Regions from separate parts of the Homo sapiens genome. Here region 2 is reported to be linked to region 1. The links are microRNA targets in miRTarBase. Many come from high-throughput screens and were not tested one by one. Region 1 holds a microRNA gene; the other region holds the end of a gene's coding sequence.

Region 1 (4,152 bases):
GACTTGTTTTAGGTATTTGGCTTTCTAATGGTTATAAGGGATGTGGAATTAAATGTATCTTAATCTGCCACCTGGACCCATTAAAGTAAGCCCCTATGGTGGTTTTTTTTTTTTAATTGCCATGGTTAAAACCATAGTTGCTAGCGAAGGTGACATACTTAAGCTTTTTGAACTCTCTTAAAAGAAAACAGAAATTTAATGATGTGTCTATAATGGCAAACCAGATACCTAGAATTTCCATGTTATTCATAGGGTGAATAACACTGGCGATTGTAGAGATTTGAGAGTTCTTTCAAAACAGGAGAACAAAGGGAATAAGCTACAAAGCAATTTTTTTCTTTGTAGACTTAACTGAATAAAAATTATTTTTATGTCTCAAACATCATATGAACAAATTTAGTTGGCAAATGGCAAGCTAATAATATTTTATAATATAGGATATTAATATACTTAATATTACAAAAGTGCTTCATAATTAGAAAAGACATAAACTAGAAAAATGGGAAAAGGGCATGAATAAGAAATTCAAGAGATACAAATGACCCACACACTTGAACAAATGTTTATTCTTTCTCATAATCAAAGAAGTAGAAATTAAATGAATACTTTGAAGCCAACTTCTGAGAAAGCATAGCAAACAAGAAAGCTAGTGCTCAGCTTTGTGTGGTAACGGCACTCTCGCTCTTAAGAAGGTGTGTTTGCTCCCTGTGGCTGCTCTCAGGCAGGGCCACAAACTTGGTGGCTTAAAACACCACAGATTTCTTCTCTTACATTTGAGAAGTCTGAAATGGGTCTTACTCAGCTGAAATCAAGGTGTTGGCAGGGCTGCAGTCCTTTGTGGAGGCTTGGGGGGATCTTGTTCTCCTGTACGGGGTCCTGTGCTTGGTTCGGGGTCCTGTGCTTGGTCTGGGATCCTGTGCTTGGTTCGAGGTCCTGTGCTGGGTCCAGTGCTCTGCTTTTACCACCTTGAAGTTCATCTGGAAATGGCACTGGCTCGCCCACACCATATAGCTGACTCTGGTTCTCCCTCCTCCTCACTCGCTCTAAACCTGTGTTTTTGGCTGATTTCTAATCTCTCTTTCCTTGGCCCTTCTGCAGCTTGCAGGGCCTTCTGCAGCTCTTGTCTGCCCCAGCCCCGGGGTCTGCCCATCCCAGTGCTGGGCTGTTCTGTTCCTGCCCTGCCTTTCCTCAGCCCTTGGCAACCCTGTTTGTTTTCTCCCTTCCTTAGCAGTGGAGAACATCGTAAGATCAATGCTGACTGCCTTCTGCAGCCAAGCCAGGCCATTTCATTTCAGCCGAGCCAAGTCTGTGTGGAGCAGTTCTTTTATTTTTCTCCTTTTGACTACCTCATGGTTTTCACGGATTTTTGTTCTCTTCACATTCAAGGATTTTTTGCTTTCAGAAAGTTATATTTCTCTGGAAAGAGTGCACCCAATATCCCTTTTGATTTCAAAATCTTAATGTGGAGTCTCTTGACTTGGATTTCTTTGGAAGAAACTGCTGAAGCTGCCATGTCTAAGAAGAAAACTTTGGAGAAAAATTTTCTTCTTAGACATGGCAACGTCAACAGTTTCTAAGCTCTTGATTCCGTCTACCCTGTCTCCATCGTTGCCTCAGTCATCTGCCTTACTTCTCTGCAGGGGTTTCTCCCAGCTTGCAAATGTACTCCAATTCTGAAATAACTAAGTCTATAGCTGTGCAAAGAGAAGTCTGGGCCCCTTGCTTTCTTGTGTTTGACTCCATCCACTCTCCAGAAATGAATCCCACTTCTCACTTAACCACTGACCTCCAAAGCATCGTATCATTTGTGTCAGTTGTCATATTTGTTAACTTTCACATAACTTTTGACATTATTTATACCTTTATAACCAGGAAATAATTTTAACTTTATTGTAGAAATAAACAATGGAGTATAATTTTTCTTGTTGAAGATAAATATCACCTCCTCTTCCTTTAAACATCTCTTCCCTTTGTTTTTGTATTACATTGGTTTCCCCCCTTTTTTTATTTCCTGGGTTGTCGTATTCCCTGTTATTATTTTTACCTTTTTTTTTTTAATGTGGATGTTTCCGGAGTCTGTATTTCTTGCCTTTTCATCTTCTGCCCTTTATTATTCTCAGCCACTGCCATTACTTCAGTTATCCATTCCCATGGTTTCCACATGCTTAGCTTCGGTTGATTCTTGCCATTTTACAGACCATATTTCCAACTACTTCTAGAATGTTTTGTTCCTTCAGCCTCAGTATGCCCAATTTGAACTCATGTTCTCTCTCCCCCTTCTTTCTTCCTTCTTTCTTTCGCTCTCTCTCCCTTCCTTCTTTTCTTTCCCTCCCTCCCTTTCTTCCTTCCCTCACTCGTTCTCTCTTGCTTGCTTGCTTTCTCTCCTCTCTCTCTTTTCTTTCTGCATTCTTCTCCCTCCCTCTCTTCCTTCTCTCCCCCACTCCCCAACTTCCAGGCTAAAGCAGTCCTCCTGAGTAGTTAGGACTACAGACATACACGTGCCACCGCGCCCGGCTCCGTGTTCTCTTTGTTTCCCTGCCTCCTGCTCTTCCACTTATCTTTGCATGGCAGGTGGGTGCACGCAGGCATGCTCTGCATGTCTTCCTCTTGGCCATTCCCCTTCTAGTTATGGTGTGGCTTTATCTACGCGTTCTGGAGCAGAAGCCTAGTCACAAAGCTATTTTTTTAAAACATTCATGATAATTCATTTCCTTTTATGTTTTAAAAATACTAGCTTTCTGTCTTTATTTCCTTACTAACTTACTTGGATGCCAGTAATTAGTTGTTTTAGTGAACACCACAGAGTGATATTTTGAAACTTTGGACTTCATAAAGTTGGATGAGCTCCAGTAGCAAAGAAGGAAGTGTTAACTAGTTTAACTGACAAATAAATGCTTCCCAGCTTGGTGTGCGATTGAGATTTTTGTTGCAAGTTTGTGAATCAATTTAACTGCCCCTGCCCTGGGGACTAAAGTCAGATACGTGCTTGTGGGAATCTTTGTCTTTCCCACACCACCCTGCATTTTAAAACCTCTTGTGTGGGACAGTCCCACCATGTAATAGCTGTTCTTCCTTACTCAGCTACTTTCCCTCCAGAGAGGCCAGTAGAAAATCTAGACTAGTTTTTTATAGTCTATTTTCATGTCACTTATTGAGAGCTACTGTTTTCTGTTAAATTGTCAGTAAATATTTTAATCAAGGAAAAGGGAGGTAATAGGAAGGAGAGAAGAACAAATCCTTAACCCTAGTAGGAACCTAATGAATGGGATTTGTTCTGGATAATTGCAGTAGTCCCCCAGCTAAAGAACCTTTTAAAAATATGTCAGATATACCCAAGAGGATTGAAATCGTATGTTCATACAAAAGCTTGTTCACCTGCAGCCTTCATATGCAATTCCTATGAATGTTCATAGCAGCATTATTCATAATAGCCAAAGTATGGATGCAACCCAAATGTCCATGAAGCAATTAATAGGTAAACAAAATGTGATCTGTTCACACAGTGGAATACTAACTATTCAGCCATAAAAAGGAATGAAGCACTGAGTCCTGCAGCCACACAGATGAACCTCAGATCCATGCTGAGCGAAAGAAGCCAGAAACAGGAGGCCATGTGCTGTGTGACTGTATTTCTAGGAAATCTTGAGTCACCATGGGCAAGATGCTATCACCTTTGTTCAGTGGCCAGAAGCGAGGGCACTAATATTTACCCTTGCCGGGGTCTACTAGATTGAAGCGTTTCCGCTAGGCCATAAACTTCCAACACGGTGACTTGTACATGTAGATATTTGATCAATATATAGCAAATGAATATTGATTTAAACAGAAAAAGGCAAGTGAGAGTGCTTTCTAAACTTAGAGCCCTAAATATATGAGGTTGTGGAATTAATAGATTCTGTTGTGTGTGTTTGAGGGAATTTAAAAATAATTTAGATGTTAAACAGTATATTGTGGAGGTGTTTTGTAACTAATTAATGACGGCACTGAATTGACTTCTAGGCCTTGCAGTATTAAAACATGTGCTAACACCACGAATAAAGGCAACTCACGTTGCTTTTGATTGCATGAAGAATTATTTAGATGCAATTTATGATGTTACGGTGGTTTATGAAGGGAAAGACGATGGAGGGCAGCGAAGAGAGTCACCGACCA
Region 2 (4,000 bases), not on the chromosome of region 1:
TATTCAAACTATGCAACTTTCCAGTTATGCCTTAAAATTGAAATCAGATTTGGAGAGATGTTTAGGATATTTTGTTCTGTTAAAGACACATACCCATGCTGATTTATTATAATTTTTAATAAAGCACATGTATATTTTATAACGAAAATTCATTCCAGAGAAGATGAGAGCAAATTTGTGGCTAATAGTCGAACAACATAGTTGTGTGTGGGTGTTTTTTTTTTTTTAGTCTTCATTATTTTTCTCAGTGAGAAGTTTGAACGCAAAGAAACCATTGACTTCTGTCTTTTCTTTCATAGCGATATCTGGCATGATTGTTCCTCCTATGTGAAAGAATTGCCTTGAAGAATTGTATTAATGAAGAGGTTGGATTCTGCTACAGAGAGTAATCTGATACAAGTCCCAGAGTGGAACTTTTAACTCAGGCCTTTTTAAGAGGAATCACAATAACTGCAGATTTTTAAACAAACAAAATCACCGACCTTGCAAATACTGAAATTGGAAGAGGGATCTGCAAGTGCAGGGTGTTGGTTAAAGTTGTACCTCCCAAGTATTTGGGGGATATATTTATTCTGTATTGACAAAAGCAAATCCACTTTTTCTTTTTCTTTTTTTTTTTTAAGCTTAATTCTGCAATCATTTGTCTTTTATAAACCGTAAAGCTCTATACAAGGGACACTATAAATAAGACTCCATGTTTTAATTTATGATGTTTTTAAAGCTGTGTAAAGGAAGAATGAAGTGGTGATATTTACAAAAAAGTAAAAAAAAAAAAAAAGAAAAAAAGGAAAAAAAAAAAAGCTTGTATGGGACAGAATAGGAATGCCAGTTAGATTTTTTAGAAAAACTAAGGGTCGGCTTTTGCGCCTTAAAGCATATCAAATGGTAGTTAGCTCAGACAGTGCATTTTCAATATCTAACTTAACATGCCACCCCTTAGCAGTGCAAGCTTATTTATCTCTTTTGTATTGTTGTCTTAAGCAACTGTGTAAATAAATGCAGCCTGGAAAGTTAAAACGCGATGTAAGTGATCACATTTTTCCCTCTACTCGAAAATCCAGTGCCTCTAGACAGATTGTTAAAACTGCATATTTAAATCTGATCTCATTCTCTCCTTTTACTTAAGTCAGTTTCTTCTGAAGCCGATGGCCTCTCGAGAGCTTGGTGGCACACATACTGTGTGAGAATCTCCTTTGAGACTTCATGGAACAGGGTCCAGGCACAGAATTCCACACTCTGCCCTCCAGTTAACAAGCCAAAACCTCACGTACGCTCCCCCATTTGCAAGTTTAAAGTTTACTCGTCCTAAATGCAGACTTCATACCTATCTTCCAAAAGTTGATAAAAGCAACGTGGCAGGTATTTTCGATTTTCCCATTCCAGATACTGCCTCTATCAGTCGACCCTTACCATTTGTAACATAATAGATTGAAACAACAGGTTAAGTGCTTTGGAATTAAGAGTTAAAGGGAACCGGGGGTGGAGAAAGGAAAAGAAGGTTGAGACCTCCAAAACATAGTTTTCTGTTCTATGGGAATTTTTGCTCTCATTATCTGGGAAGTGTTCTTAAAAATAAGAATTAATAGCAAAGATGCAGCAAAGCTCTGAGGATGCATTTGCCTGATATTTTTTTCTTTGCTCTTGTGTTTTTGTATGTAGTTATAAATACTGTAGATTTTTTTTTTGTGATTTTTTGCCAAAGTTGTTGTTCTATTTATACATTTTAATGTCTTAAGACATTTTTTCAATATCACAAAAAGATTTTACTGCGTATTTTGCAAAGAAAAAAAGCTCACTACCTTTAGCTTGCACATACTTGCAAAGTTAATTAAAAGGCTTTTTGTTTTAAAGGGGATTTTGTAAAATATCCATATAAATAATGTATTTATCTTTCGAATTTGTACATTGCTTTTCCCTTCTTCCTCTTCCTTCCACCCCCAATTTATTTTATTGTGTATGTTTGCTACGTGAAAAGTGCGTATTTGTTTGGTCACCTACACTTGTATTAGCTGTTTCAATGTGATTTTTAAACATTTCATTTATAGTTATTTTTAGTATTGTTATAAACCATGCTTCAGTTTTTTTAATTTCCACCCAAAAGTCATTGTCTATTTTTGTATTATTTGTAAGTTAAGAAGTTTTTTCCAATATATGGCAAAAAAAAAAAAATAGTAGCATATTATTCTTGTAGTATTTAGTTCAGTAGATTTAAAAAAAAATGTATCCTTTGCTTTGGAAGCTTACAAAACAACCCTAATGCTGTTTTACTCTATTAATATGCATGGAATCTCTCCCTTTGGAGTGACGCATTTTGTGCATTAAATTCTAGGGAGAAACTTCATAGAAATCAATGAACATACTTTCTTTCTTAAGTCTGCTTGTATATTTCCTCTGTCTTTCACATAAATATAAACCAGCAGATTGGATGCCTTAACAATGCAAATCATATTCATTTCACTTGTACATTGTAACTGTGCACCAGAACTGTCAGTCATCACTAACATTCTAAGAAAAAAGAAAAAGAAAAAAAGAAAAAAAAAAAAACAAAGAAATCGAAAAGCACAAAAGAACTGTTTTGTTACCTTAAGACAATGTAACTTTTTCTAGTAGAGCAAGAAATCATTTACAACAATGCTGCAACTGTGCATGCCCCCATATGGATTTTGCAATGGTTTTCACTAGGCTGTCAAGAGTGCGATTTTTATGGGTTGGGGTGGGTGGGGGAGGGGAGTTGTGGGAGGGTAGGGGAGGGAGGAAAGCTGTTTTTCATGGTGAGAAATAATAATGATGACTAATAATAATAAAAAAAACTGGAAAATGTAAGCAAGGTGGACGCATTGCTTCTCGGTACTCAGAAAGGTTATCTGAATTTGCGTGGTAAGCGCTGGCCTGAAGATGTACACAAGTTAAAGCCATATTTTATCTGGTGAGCCCCTTAACTGTTTCTGAAGGAATGAACGGTCAGCCGGGAAGGTGTCCGGCTTAGACCTTGACAACAGACACTACCCATCTGTCAGCCATGTGCAGTGGTTAGAACTCTTCTTGAAAGTCCAAAGAGCCTTTAAAATGTGTATAATTTGTGTTTTGTTGCTTCTATTTCTATTGATTAGATGAAAAGACATTCTGGCCCTCTGATCCTCTTTCTTCTCCACAAAAGTTTTACAAATAAAAGATGTTCCCCTAAATACAGAATATGGCTTTAAGAAGAAAATGAAATGAAGAATTAAATTAAGATTTCAGTGTTGGGGGAAAAAATACAGCTTCTGGATGACTGGATTGCATAACATTGCCCTGGCCTCACATTGTACTAGGATGCAGCTTAAATGAAGTCATCTCTAAATCTACTAACCTTTCACCTTCTTATCAAAACTTTTTGAATAGACACACACTGTACAGTTCAATTGTTAGAGAACCTAACTACTGTAGAGATTGTTAAATTTTTTTTTTTTTTTTGCAAAAATTCAAGCTGTAAAAACTTTTCAACTTTCACAATATTTAATTAAAGTTACTTCCTGTCTGTGATGGCAGCTCCTAGTTGTGTATTCATTTCTCTATTTCAGATGAGCCAAAGTCCAACATAATGTAAAAGGTCTGTGTTTGCAATGACTCAGATCAGTCTTGATACCCAGTGAAAAGGAATTAGGGTAGTGCTGGGACACCCTCTTTCTTATGTAGGTCCTTGGGGATTTGCTAATCTGGGATGCAAATTGAACACGCGCAGCGTACTGCTGCCCTCTGCCGGCGGTAGCTGGATGTGCACATGCCCACACCGGTCCATATAGGAGCCAAGAGCCCCCAGCAACTTCAACAGCCAAGCCCTGAGATCCTCCTGCGTGATTGAACTGTGAATCCAGGAAGTGGCCATTCTAGAACCCCTATCCTTCGTGCTACAAATCTGAACCAAGCTTTTCACACACAGCTGCTAATTAATCCCAGCGAGCCTTCTGGTCAACTAATTATGTGCCCTGGCTCATTGATGAGGAGGCATGTGTGAACTGAG

The links. The annotated mature microRNA hsa-miR-4659a-5p reads CUGCCAUGUCUAAGAAGAAAAC and lies in region 1 at 1,507-1,528, shown strand. An mRNA with a match to its seed (bases 2 to 7 or 8) in the 3' UTR can be bound and repressed. Matches are read on the target gene's strand: a 7mer-m8 pairs with bases 2 to 8, a 7mer-A1 pairs with bases 2 to 7 and ends in A, and an 8mer does both.
Region 2: the mRNA of EBF1 is a reported target of hsa-miR-4659a-5p. Seed matches in the 3' UTR shown: 7mer-A1 at 2,152-2,158.

What each region holds. Positions count from the first base shown.
Region 1 is chr8:6,743,671-6,747,822 of GRCh38, forward strand. MIR4659A (microRNA 4659a) reads left to right here and starts at 1,494; the gene lies at 1,494-1,574. AGPAT5 (1-acylglycerol-3-phosphate O-acyltransferase 5) reads left to right here. Exons shown (of 8, transcript NM_018361.5): 6 at 4,000-4,152. It overlaps MIR4659B (microRNA 4659b), which reads right to left and starts at 1,570; the gene lies at 1,498-1,570. RefSeq lists enhancers at 785-1,064, 1,095-1,174, 2,787-2,836, 3,438-3,732 and a silencer at 2,597-2,646.
Region 2 is chr5:158,695,442-158,699,441 of GRCh38, reverse strand. EBF1 (EBF transcription factor 1) reads left to right here. Exons shown (of 16, transcript NM_024007.5): 16 at 300-3,522. The coding sequence ends at 331. Among named protein-coding and RNA genes, the nearest start is that of LINC02227, 290 kb to the right of the region's middle. RefSeq lists an enhancer at 1,017-1,671.